2 linked regions of the Homo sapiens genome follow. The protein of the gene in region 1 purifies or fractionates together with the protein of each later gene. This does not show direct contact. Each region holds a gene or a part of one and is shown in the gene's direction. Other genes may lie near its edges.

What was found.
Region 2: the proteins of SH3BGR (region 1) and DCP1B purify together in Homo sapiens (affinity purification with mass spectrometry; 2 studies listed by BioGRID and IntAct, with this or other methods). This does not show direct contact.

Annotation. Positions count from the first base shown.
Region 1 is NC_000021.9:39,510,954-39,516,018, forward strand, and holds the end of SH3BGR (SH3 domain-binding glutamic acid-rich protein), read left to right. Parts: intron 1-726; coding exon 727-822; 3' UTR 823-856; intron 857-4,134; coding exon of another isoform or gene 4,135-4,206; 3' UTR 4,207-4,551; downstream 4,552-5,065. Other genes in the region: GET1-SH3BGR (WRB-SH3BGR readthrough), read left to right, coding at 727-822.
Region 2 is NC_000012.12:2,001,449-2,008,651, reverse strand, and holds the start of DCP1B (mRNA-decapping enzyme 1B), read left to right. Parts: upstream 1-4,194; 5' UTR 4,195-4,220; coding exon 4,221-4,370; intron 4,371-7,203. UniProt on the Homo sapiens protein: May play a role in the degradation of mRNAs, both in normal mRNA turnover and in nonsense-mediated mRNA decay. May remove the 7-methyl guanine cap structure from mRNA molecules, yielding a 5'-phosphorylated mRNA fragment and 7m-GDP.

The DNA of each region.
Region 1 (5,065 bases):
GAATTTGTAAAGGTTATTTGCTGAGAATGGTTTGTTAATATGAGTGGAGACTGTACACTTAGGTGGGATTATAAAACCTGTTAGGATTAACATATCATTCTAAAGCACCATTCTAAATTGAGGACTCTGTGTTTAGAAGGATGATTTTTTTTATGTGTGTGTATGTATGTGTGGTATGTGTGGTGTGTTGTATGTGTGGTGTATGTGTATTTGTGTGTGGTGTATATGGTGTGTGGTGTGTTTGGTGTGTGTGTGTGTGATGTGTGTTATGGTGTGTATGTTATGGTGTGGAGGGTATGTATGTGTATGTGTGATGTGTATGTGTATATTGTGTGTGTATTTGTGGTATATGTGATGTGGTGTGTGGGGTGTGTGGTCTGGTGTGTGTGTGTGCTATGTGGTGTTTGGTATTTGTGTGTGGTGTGTATGTGGTGTGTGTGCGTGGATGTGTGTCTGGGTGGTGTGTGGGGGGGTGTGTGTGCTGTGTGTCATGTGTGTTTCCGTGGTGTGTGTGTGTTTGGGCGGTATGTGTGTGGGGTGTGTGTGTGGCATGTGTTTGTGTGGCATGTGTGGTGTGTGTATTTGTGTGTTGTGTGTGTTTGTTTGTGTGTTGTGTGGTGGGGTGTGGGAGGCTTTGACCTCTAGTCCAGCATTTTACAGTCTTTTTCTCACTGTATCCTTGGCCCTTATGCTTCTTAATACTAATGTAAGTTTTGTTAAAATAAGACGGAAGAAATAGCCATGGAGGGTGCGGAAGGGGAAGCCGAGGAGGAGGAAGAAACTGCAGAAGGAGAAGAGCCTGGAGAAGACGAAGATTCCTAGGCCTTTTCATGCTTCATTTCTTCCACTTCTCCAGGTAGCTACAGGATTCTGGGGTGGAAAAGCTGCTAGTTACCGTACTGTATGCTATCTGCGGCACATTTTGCTTAGTAACAGGAGAAAGGGAATTCCAATTCAGGGCTGTCTGTCTCCTTCCAAAGCCCTGGTCTGCACACCTTTCTGGCGGGGTCCAGCTCCTTTCTAGAGCTGCGGGGCTGCTGACCTTTCGTGGGTCTGTTTCTTGCACACTAGGGCACAGAAGGCTATGGTTGATGGGATTTCTAGGAAAAAGTGCACCTTTGATGCAGGGAAGAGTTTTGTTTTGCATTTACTTCCTCCTCTTCCTCTATATAAACTTTGTTTGAGAGAAGATACAGCAAGTGTCCTTTTATCAGCATTCTGTAACCTCAACTCCTCCACCAACCACATGTACAACTTTAGGGGGGTGACTACTGATGTTCAGAATGATGGCAATAAATTATAACCTTAAAAAATCACAAAGCTGGTGTTGAGTCATGAAAGAAAATTATTGCTGCCACGGGTTTAGTCGTCAGTGCTTGGTACTCCATTTCCGTTTCTATTAACCAGAACGCTCCTCTGGAAACACCGGGGAACATGGTGAAGTCCCTTTAGGTATCTTTGACAAGTAAGCTCTTGCTGCCTTCTGGTTTTAAACTTCCCTTGATGATGGAAAATAATTATGTAATTCTTACTAGTTTGATAAGTGCCACATATTAGTGAACATTTATTAAGTGTTAATAAGACAATAGAATCTGATAATGGATCTTGAGGACATGGGCGAATGCTTAAATATTGTGAGCCATACAGATAGGACAGCATGCGTGAAAACCCCTAAAGACATGAAGTGCATTAGCCGGGTGGGGTGGCTCATGCCTGCGGTCCCAGCTACTTGGGAGGCTGAAGCCTGAAAATCACTTGAACCCGGGAGGCAGAGGTTGCAGTGAGCCAAGATTGCACCACTGCACTCCAGCCTGGGTGACAGAGCAAGACTCTGTCTCCAAAACAAAAACAAAAACAAAAAACAAAACAAAACAAAACAGAAGACATTAAGTGCTATAAAAATATCTGTTTTTTCCTGATATTTGGCAAATACCTAGGTACATGTTGTATTATTATTAATATGATTGGCTTTGCAACTGAATTTGAGGCCATAGTTTATTCTCTAGGGCAACATTGCTCATGGTTTTGCTCTGGAGCTATAAGCGTTTTTTAAAAAATTTAAAAAAGTTTAGTCTTTTTATCTCCCATATTATGCCTCCACTGAAAATTAAGACGGCTTTTTGGGCTGTTACTCTCAGGAGATAATGATGGAATATGCACTCATTATTCTCTAAATGAGAGACACTTATCAAACCAGTAAGAATTACATAATTATTTTCCATCGTCAGTAGAAGTTTAAAATTACAAGGCAGCAAAAGCTGACTTGTCAAAGATACCTAAAGTGACTTCACCATGTTCCCCAGGCAGGTCTCTAGTTAAGAATTGGTGCATGTACAAAGAAGGGTGGATAGAAGGGTTTATTTGGAGAAGGAAGAAGAAATCTTTGGTGCTCTTTAAAAATTGGCTGACAAATAGCAATGCTCTTTGCACCAAAGTCCAATTTGAATAGTAGGGATGTCCCTTCTTAATAGACTTACAAAAAAAAGCTGATATAAAAAGCACTTAATCTATTTTTAGAGCATCTTGGAGCTAGTGAGGGTGGCCATCACACTTTGTTATTGGACCATAAAGGTTTTGTCATTCATTTGCTTGAATGAGAAAGTGATTCTAGCCCACGATTTGATGTCTCTCCAGGGTGTTTCTTTCATGCTCTGGACCCACAGACTTCTACTTTAAAGCCCTCTGCTTGCCACTTGGTTACAATTCCATTTCTAAGGAGTGGGTTGGGACTCATTTTTGAAAAAAAGGAAACTGGCAAGCTTAAGATATTCTACCTGAAGAATGGTAGAAAATGAAAATATGATTATATTTATCCTCATACCAGAAACAAAACAAAGCAAAACCCACAGTAACAGACTCATTGGTCCTGTTTAAATCCATGTCTGTTCACTCAGCTTGGAAAGTTCTTTAAAAATTGTGCAGTTTTAATGTGATAATTATAAAGAAATATTGGATGTGAAATGGCACAGCCGAGAGAGAATCTTTAATGTAGACAGATGGCTTCTTTATAGGCCATTTCCAAAAAAGAAAGAAAAAAAGGCAAGTTACAGTTGTGGCTAGCACATTCTGCCTGTTTCTCTGATGGGTTCTAGTTTGGAATCCAGTCCCTAATAGTCTGTTGTGAGGTCAAAATGTCTGACAGTGAAGGAGTAAACCAGGCAGCACCCTAAATCCCAGCCACTGACTCCCGAAGAGAGTCAATAACCTTTAAAATGCGACATGATGATGCAGTCAGGTATTCTGCAAACTATTTGGCTTCCAAAAACAAACCCATCTCATAACTCATAGATTATCCATGCATTTTATTTGAAAAGACGATTTTAGACAGAACAAGGCAATGAATGGAACTATGAAAGAATTCTCATTTCCCATAGTTGAAGTTGGAGTCAGAATCTATTATTATTATTATTTATTTATTTATTTTATTTTTTGAGACAGGGTCTCACTCTGTCACCCAGGCTGGAGTGCAGTGGTGAGGTCATGGCTCACTTTGACCTCCCTGGTCTCAGGTGATCCTCCCACCTCAGCTTCTTGAGTCGCTGGGATTACAGGCACGCACTACTATGCCTGGCTAATTTTCGTATTTTTTGTAGAGATGGGGTTTCACCATGTTGCCTAGGCTGGTCTCGAACTCTTAGGCTCAAGTGCTCTGCCCACCTTGGCCTCCCAAAGTGTTGGAATTACAGGCATGAACCACCACGTCTGACCTAGAATCTAAATTGATGTTTGAGTCCCAGGGCAAATAATGTCCAATATGAGACTGGATTCTACCTCCCCAAAGCTTGCCACTTAATACCTTCTTCTGGTGTAGCCATGAACCATTTAGAGCTCCGCCTCTGGGACCAAGCTGTCAATTCAGCCTATTTTCCATGAAAACACAGTGGGAAATTATAATTGGAGATGTTGTCTTCCTTATGGTGTTTGATATGTGTTTATGCAGAGAAAGGATATAAATCTAGCTTAGTTTTCCATGAGACAAATTCCCTTTCCTTTCAGTGGGGAGCAAATGATGACTAGTGGTTTATAGAATAAAAGGCAACACTTTCCTTTATTGTATGTTAAGTGATGAAGATTGTGGTAAACATTCTGTGTCTTTCTCTACAGTCTTTCCCTAATATTTGCCTTTTCTTTTAGAAAATGGAAGCTATGAAGCAACATTTCAAATGTCTCTCCACAAACCAAACTCAACAGAATACTTTGGCTTGAAGCCGGCACACCCAGGGTTACTGAGGACTTATGCTGCCTGACCTGGTTAGATGTACATGGAGGTATCTCCCGAATCATACAAAATTAAATGTGAAGACCGTTTATGCATACCTTCATGTGCCTGACAGTCTTGGCTTTTGAAGATTTTTTTTTCTTTTTTGCTCTGCATAGCTAGACCATCTTATTAATAATACTCTGAAAAAAATGATTTCAAGGCATGGAAGTTCTCTGTGATACAACAATAGTATTTCTTCAAATGCGCCTTATGCTACTTATCTCAGAAACAGGTTTTAAAATGAAGTGCTTTCCAGAGAACCATCATATAAATAAAGATTAATAGAAAAATATCTTGTCCCAAGGAGCATCATTTCATTATTTATAGTCTCTGCTTGCATATGCCTGAACTCCGTCTGTCTGTTGCCAAGTCTAAATCTTCAGCAGCACTTTTCTGTCTGCGTTGGGATCGATGTCTTTTATTGCACTGATTATTTGGTCCATGTTTTCAATTGCATTGATTGTCTCATTACGTCGTATTTTTTTTTTTATTACACACACGTTGTGCGTATCATCTTTGAAGCCTTATCTAACTGTAACTTTATCATCCACTTGTGTGGGGATGATGGTAAGGAGGGATGATGGTAAGGACAGAAATCTGCAACCCAGTGCCCTTCACACGTTTCTGAGCTGAAGGGAGTGGCTGCTTCTGTTTCTCCTGCTGTTGATTGATTTGTAGCCATGGCTGTGGAGACGGGTCCTGTAATTTTTCTTCCTGATGGCCAGGAGTGTGTGTTCACCTACAGCTGATCCAGCTCCAATGACTTGTACACCAGGTAAGTTTGATAGCATTTCTCTGCTCACC
Region 2 (7,203 bases), on another chromosome or scaffold:
TTGCACGTTTTTTTATCCCAACTTGGATTTCATTATTTTATAAATCATGAGCTCTTTAAAAAATGCTGACATTTAATGAGTAAATTCAACTAACTCAGGGTTTAGTTCAAAAGAATAAGCATTTATTGAATCTCTATTATGTACAAGGCATTGGACCAAGTGCTAGGGAGACTACGTGGTGATAAGCACATAAAAAATAACATCTCCATCCTGAGCAACGTAGTGAGACCCCATCACTACAAAACATAAAAAGTAACATCTCCATCCTGAGCAACATAGTGAGACCCCATCACTACAAAACATGAAAAATAACATCTCCATCCTGAGCAACGTAGTGAGACCCCATCACTACAAAATATAAAAAACATTGGCCGGGCATGGTGGCACCAGCCTGTGGTCCCAGCTACCTGGGAGGCTGGGGTGGGAGGAGTGCTTGAACCCAGGAGGTCAAGTCTGCAGTGAGCTGTGATTGTGCCACTGCACTCCAGCCTGAGCGACAGAGAAAGACCCTGTCTCAAAAAATAAATAAATAAATAAATAAATAAGTAAAACTTTATGAAACATACTATTTCCTCCTTTTTGCTTATCTGTCAAGAAACTCAAAGCCCAATTTCTTGTTCAATTGCAATAATGTTTTCAGGCTAGATTTTCTATAACAATTCTCTTTTATTACAATGACTGTTTTTTTTTAGAATTGGAAAAAAATGTATATGTAACGTAGTAAATAAATAAGTCTAAGTCAGGATAAAGTGAGCTAAGTGCCACAAGAAAAATCGCAACAGAATGCAATGAGGATTCATAGGCTGAAAGGATTGTATGGGAGAAGACAGGAGGTGAGTTTTCCAGGAAAAGGTCATTCCAAGCTAAGAAGACAGATGGGCAAAGGTACAGAGATAGGAATGTGTAAGATACTTGGGAGAAAAGAGTTCAGATACAAGGAGGTTAGAACAGAAGATGGGTTGTTTCATTAACTCTAAACACACAAAAAATTAACTCTTCTCTACTAAGGGTCATATTAGCATGTTGTTCACATATGTGAAATTTTCCCCGTAAGCAAAGTAAGGGTATCTTCATCTTACTCATCAGTGAGATCAAAGACTGGAGAAGACATGACCATGTAATTTCAGCACAGACACAAGAAGCAATAATAAATCATGAAGAATTAATGAATTTCATCAAGTGAGCACTCCATAAATGCTTTGCAATTGTAGTCATACAGATCACTAAGACTTGTATACACTTTTGTTTTATGAACATTTAAGCTTTTACAATGGCCCCTATATTGCCTGTCTTCTCTAATGAGCTCAAAGCAATTCGTTCTTTGGAGGCCATGATCTATTCTTTACACTTTAAAGATGGAAAGACTGAAAAATTATGAGGACAATGATCTGTGTAAGGATCATGGAACTTAACAGACAAAAGAAAAACAATGCCTCATTATATGTACGAGGGAAATGCAAAGTAGAATCTGTGGGTTCATGCTGAAAAATCAAAATTAGAACAGCTAATCAAGTGAGAGAGTGTGACTAGTTCAAGAATTAATCACAAAATTCTCCATTGCCCATATTACAGATTAAACTTGTTTTTAGAAGCACATATGTGATTAAGAGCAAAGAGGTCAGTAACACTGGAAAAAGGTAGTGAACTAACATGGAAAGTTGTCTAGTCAGCTTTGTGTGGTTGCTCAGTTGCTGCAGCCCTATGTTTTTCAAACTACAGGTCACAATCCATTAGTTGGTCATGAAACCAATTTACAAAGTCACAAATAGCATTTTAAAAAATGTCTGTATACTTAGTATTGAAACATTTATTCTAGTTAATATCAGGTATAAATATATAAACATATGTTCTCAGTCAGACTGCAAATGACCCCAGCCTCAGTCAAAAAAAAGTTGTTTGAAAGCCATTGCTGTATTCTTCCCCACTGGGAAGTTAGGCTTGGGAGTCAATAGGACTGAGACTCCAAAATGCAGCTTAACCAAGAATTTCAGTACAATTGAAATTGTGACTGCAAAGATTATATTGCAACATATTATTATGAGAGGGTATGTGTGCCGTATCTATGATATTTCTATATCAAATAGGTAAGAATTTATGAATGTGAGTAGTAATGTCTGCACAGTTGTTCTAATATTTAATGCTAGATAAATGGTTTAGATCAACCATTCTCAACTTTTTAGTCTCAAGACTCCTTTACACTCTTAAAAATTATTTTTTTAATTACTTTTTATTTATTTTATTTTTGAGATGGAGTCTCGCTCTATCACCCAGGCTGGAGTGCAGTGGCAGGATCTCGGCTCACTGCAACCTCTGCCTCCCGGGTTCAAGCGATTCTCCTGCCTCAGCCTCCCGAGTATCCGGGATTACAGGTACCTGCCACCACTCCTGGCTAATTTTTGTATTTTTAGTAGAGACGGGGTTTCACCATGTTGGCCAGGCTGGTCTTGAACTACTGACCTTGTGATCCGCCCGCCTCAGCCTCCCAAAGTGCTGGGATTACAGGCAGGAGCCACCGCACCTGGCCCACTCTTAAAAATTATTAAGGACTCCCTCAGAGAACTTTTGTTTATGTGAGTTATACCCACCTATATTTACCATATTGGAAATTAAAAATAACTTTAAAGACCCCGGGCTATGTGTGTTTTGTTTGGAGTATATGAAGAAACTCTGGCCTCATATGTAGATAATGTAGTTGGAAAAGAGATGGATATTTTAATAGAGTTTTTCAGACAATTGTGGATATTCTTCTTGGATAATATACCAAAACTTGACAAGCTGGAGTTTCTCAAAGCTTAGCTGCAATGTACTATCTGAAATCCTATTAACTTTTCATACTGTTACATTAAAAATCCATTAGTCCACCTTGTCCTTGAATGGATCTTTTGCCTGTGCATGATTATGTAGCATGAGACATTGGTCTTTTGGAAAATACTGGACCACTGAGTTAAGCAGATCTTTGAGATATTGACACTTTCCATTATACAAGATTTGTTAAAATTGCGCTCATTAATATCATCACTGATCTCATCAGAAAAAAAAACATTAAGTACTGAGATGTCAAGCTCATGGCAGTAGATACACATTTTCTAAACTTTTAATTCTGGCTTGAAGGCTTAAAAATTATCATTGGCAGCAGTAATTGTCCCTTGTTTTCCTGAAAGTGACAGGCACACTTTATTTATTTTCAGAAAAATGTCTGTCAAGTACCTGTTTGAATAATCATAGTTTGCCCATCTTTCTTTCAAGTAAAAATGTTTTATGAAAATAAAAATAAAAACATGAATTCGGCCTACAACTCAAGCACAGAAGTATTTTCCTAGAGACAAATATGACACACTTCATTTTGCAGCAGACGTGCTTTATGCCTATTTCCTATTTTTTCATGCAGAATGTTAAAAAGAATTGTACCCAAGGATTAAGCTTCAATGAAATTAATAATTCTTACTGCTTATCAAGAACACCATCAGGTGACACTGGCTCTCTACCTTCTTCTTTTTTTTTTTTTCTTTTGTAACTGAGAGTGCAGATTAGTGACGCGTACTTTGACTAGCAATACAGTTTGGTGCCCCTGCCTTGATTGGGTTAAACCACCGGCGCTTTTAACCACCATTGTCTGCAAAACGTCACCACAGTGAACAAGTCAAATAAGTAAGTCTCAGCATTGTCATAAAAGGTTTTGTTTTTTTTTTGACCTTGCAGATCCCCTGAAAGGGTCTCAGAAACTCCCAAAGGGTTCCAGGACCACACCACACTTTGAGAACCACTGGGTGTTAGCGCATTCAGAAATCAATTCAGTTCTCTTTCTCTTCAGAGTTCTTGATGCTCGAGGCTTATTTATTGTGATAGATTTGATCACTGAAGCGCCAAAGAAAAGATATGCCAAGGGGTCGAACACATCCAAGAAGGAAATCCTACCGCACACACAGCTCAAAGGCTCGAGCGCGTAGAAAAACAGCTCTTGGAGAAAGAAACGGGATGCAGAGGGCAGGCCTGGGCTTGTCGTTGCCAGTGGCAACGATCCTCAGTGGGCGGGGCGCGGCCATCGATTAGTGAGGCCTTGCGTCTGTCGGCGGGCAGGAGGGTGGGGGTGACTGGAGCCGGAAGGCCTCCCGGGCCGTGTGGTCGCCGTGGGTTCTCGGTTGCGAGGCAGCTCGCTCGTTCTGCGATCTATTGAGAGTGGCTTCCAAGAGCCCCGTGCCTATGTCTGGGAGGGAGGGAAGATGGCAGCCGTGGCGGCAGGCGGCCTGGTGGGAAAGGGGCGCGACATCAGCCTAGCGGCCCTGCAGCGCCACGACCCCTATATCAACCGCATCGTGGACGTGGCCAGCCAGGTGGCTCTGTACACCTTCGGCCATCGGGCCAACGAGTGGGTGCGTGCGGACGCGGCGGAGCAGTGCAGCCCAGGGTTGGGGTGGAGGCGGGGGGCGTCAGACTCAGGACTTGAGGACCCGGTGAGGGGGAGGAGACGTTGACGCCCTGGAAGTGGGTGGATCTGGGGACTGAGGCCGAAGTTGTGGAGATGGGGTCTCGGGGGTTTGGGGGAAGGAAGGCGGATCTGTGGAGCTACCTGGAGTTGGGGAAAAGACTTAAATCTCTAACGTACCCAACGCTGGGAGACCAGACCGATCGGGTACGGCACCATAAGAGCCGAAGGAAAGGAAGGACCTGATACCTTATGGCCGGAAGACCGATGTGCTCGAGAAAGTAGAGCAGAGTTCTGTTACAGTGAATCTGTGGCTATGGGGGAGGCAGGGACAGCAGACGAATAAAAGTGCAGAGTTCTGATTTTGGAATGTCAGTCTTAGATGGGGCAAAGAGAAATCAAAACTTGATAGAAGGGGAGAAATCTGCAAGTTGTAAACTTAAGGGGAAACACCAAGAAAAGAGCCAACCTCGTCAAATAAAAGACAAAATGGGGCAGGGTCTAACACTTAGAAGGAAGCTGATGCTCTTGGGAAGATTATTACACGGCAGCACACCAAGTTCGATATTGGAGGTCATTTGGGAGCCAAATTATTTTAGTGCTCTTCTCAAAGCAGAGTCCCAGTAAATGGTAATGGAATGAAATTTCATTTTCCTCATAGTTAGAATGGGGTAGAAGCCTAGAACACTGGAATCCTGTTGCAGGGATTGCTGCTTGTAATTTTGTAACCCACCCACTCGAATGTAGAGACATGTAATTTTGTTTCTTTACTCATAATGAGTTTTGTCCAAATAATATTCATCATCCATTATGTATCACATACATGATATCCATCATTTTAAAATAAGTTACAAAACAGTATGGAGAACTTAGCCTTGATGAATGGATTTCAGATAAACTTTTTGTGTTCTTCAAGTCGGTTGTATAAACATCAAAACTTAATCTAGGAAAACATCCATGTTGAACAACTCTGTATTTTTTTTAACACCCACATTCATAAGCCTACTTATCTGCAGTATAGTTCAGCAGCCTGTAGTAAAAAACTCACCTGAAAATCATTAACATAAAAATAAAAAGACAAGCAAGAATGGGGTAGACAAACAGTTTTGCCCAAAGTTCTTAACGGAGGAAATTTGCCGGAATGGGGCAAAGAATTTAGGTCTGCTCTCCTAGTAGCCAAACACAAAAGGAGAACAGGAAGAGCTCTTTAATATTCGTTCTTCTGTAATAGAAAGTGTACCTCTTGATCAGGAGAAAGAGGTTATTTCCCCCTAGTTTCCAGGGGAATTTGTCACCTACTTTTTTTGTTTGTTTTTGTTTGTTTGTTTTTTCGAGGTGTCACCTTCGTTTTTACATAAAGAACATTGAGCAACATAGACAGTTTCCTCCATGGTAATTAAAAATATATAAAAAGATATTCTACATATGGCTATTTTGCTGCTCTGTAGAAAAATGCTAAAGGTATAATGTTATAATCCTGTAAAAGTAATTCCGTAGTAGAGAGATGAGGACCAGGGATGTATAGTTCTGTAAGTTGACTTGACACTGGGATTCGAGTCTGGAGAATCCCAAGAAACTGTCAGTATAAAGAGAGTAGAGCATTTCTCTTGAATAATAGTTGTTTCCTATAGGCTTTTGACCCTTATCAATGTGATAGATACCTTTTTAAGATAGTTACAGATGTTTATTAGATACCTAAAGCCTCATCAAAAAGCAGATGTGTCACAATGCATTAATTACAGGAGTTATGTTTTCCTGCTTGCTGGATATGTTGCCTTCAGACAGGGCATAATTCATTCAGGAAAAGGTCATTCTTTCAAAGTTCTAATCTTCAAGGCTGTGGTAGCCAGAAAAACAGAGAGACCTAGTTCAACTGCAGAGCAGTTGCTGGAGGCAAACTAATTATGACCACTGTCTCCATGTGCTGTCACTGTGGATGGGAGCCGTTTGAATGTAAACCTAATAAGAATATGAGAACATTGTTGAGAATAGAGGAGAAAGTATTTACAAGAAGGCAGGGGGGATCTTAAGGAGGGGAATTCTTATTGCCCTGAAAATGGATGAAGAATGACTTCAGCCTTTCAAAGGAGGAGAAATTAGGAAGGAAAGGTGTCTAGAAAATGAACTGCTTTAAAGAAGGATTAAGAAAGATTATGTGATGACTGGAATAGGAATTTTAGAGTTAGACCTACTCCCTGTTGCCAGGAAAGACTGCCCCCCGCCTCCAAAATATTAATACCTATGTGTCAATTGAAGACCATAACCCTGGTATTTTCCAGCTGTCAGTCCTTAGACCAGTGGCTCTCAGCTGGAGTTGATTTTGCCCCCAGGTGACATTTGGCAGTGTCTGGAGACGTTTTTGGTTGTCACACTGAAGGGAAGAGTGTTGTGACATCTATAGAGTAGAGGCCAGGGAATGCTGAGCCTGAAAACTGCCCTAAAGTGACTAACGTTGTGTTCCTAGCTAGTGGTTTTCTAAGTTTTTGGTGTATCCAAATAAGTCAGAGTTTTTTAAAAGTGAAAAATGCCAAACTAAAACCTCTGGATAATGAGACCCAGGCATTTCATATTGTTGAAAGCCTCATAGGTGACTCACGTGCTACATGCATGATGAAGAGAGATTTGGGAGGATAAGTTGAGACCTACTTTTTGATTATTTTAACTGAGAATAATCAAGTTAAAATAGAGATTGCGTTGAGCTAGTTTGTGTCAGACAGTGTGCAGAGTCCCCAAAATTTGCAAAACAGCACTATTTTATATTCCATTTTGGGTTTTTTAGT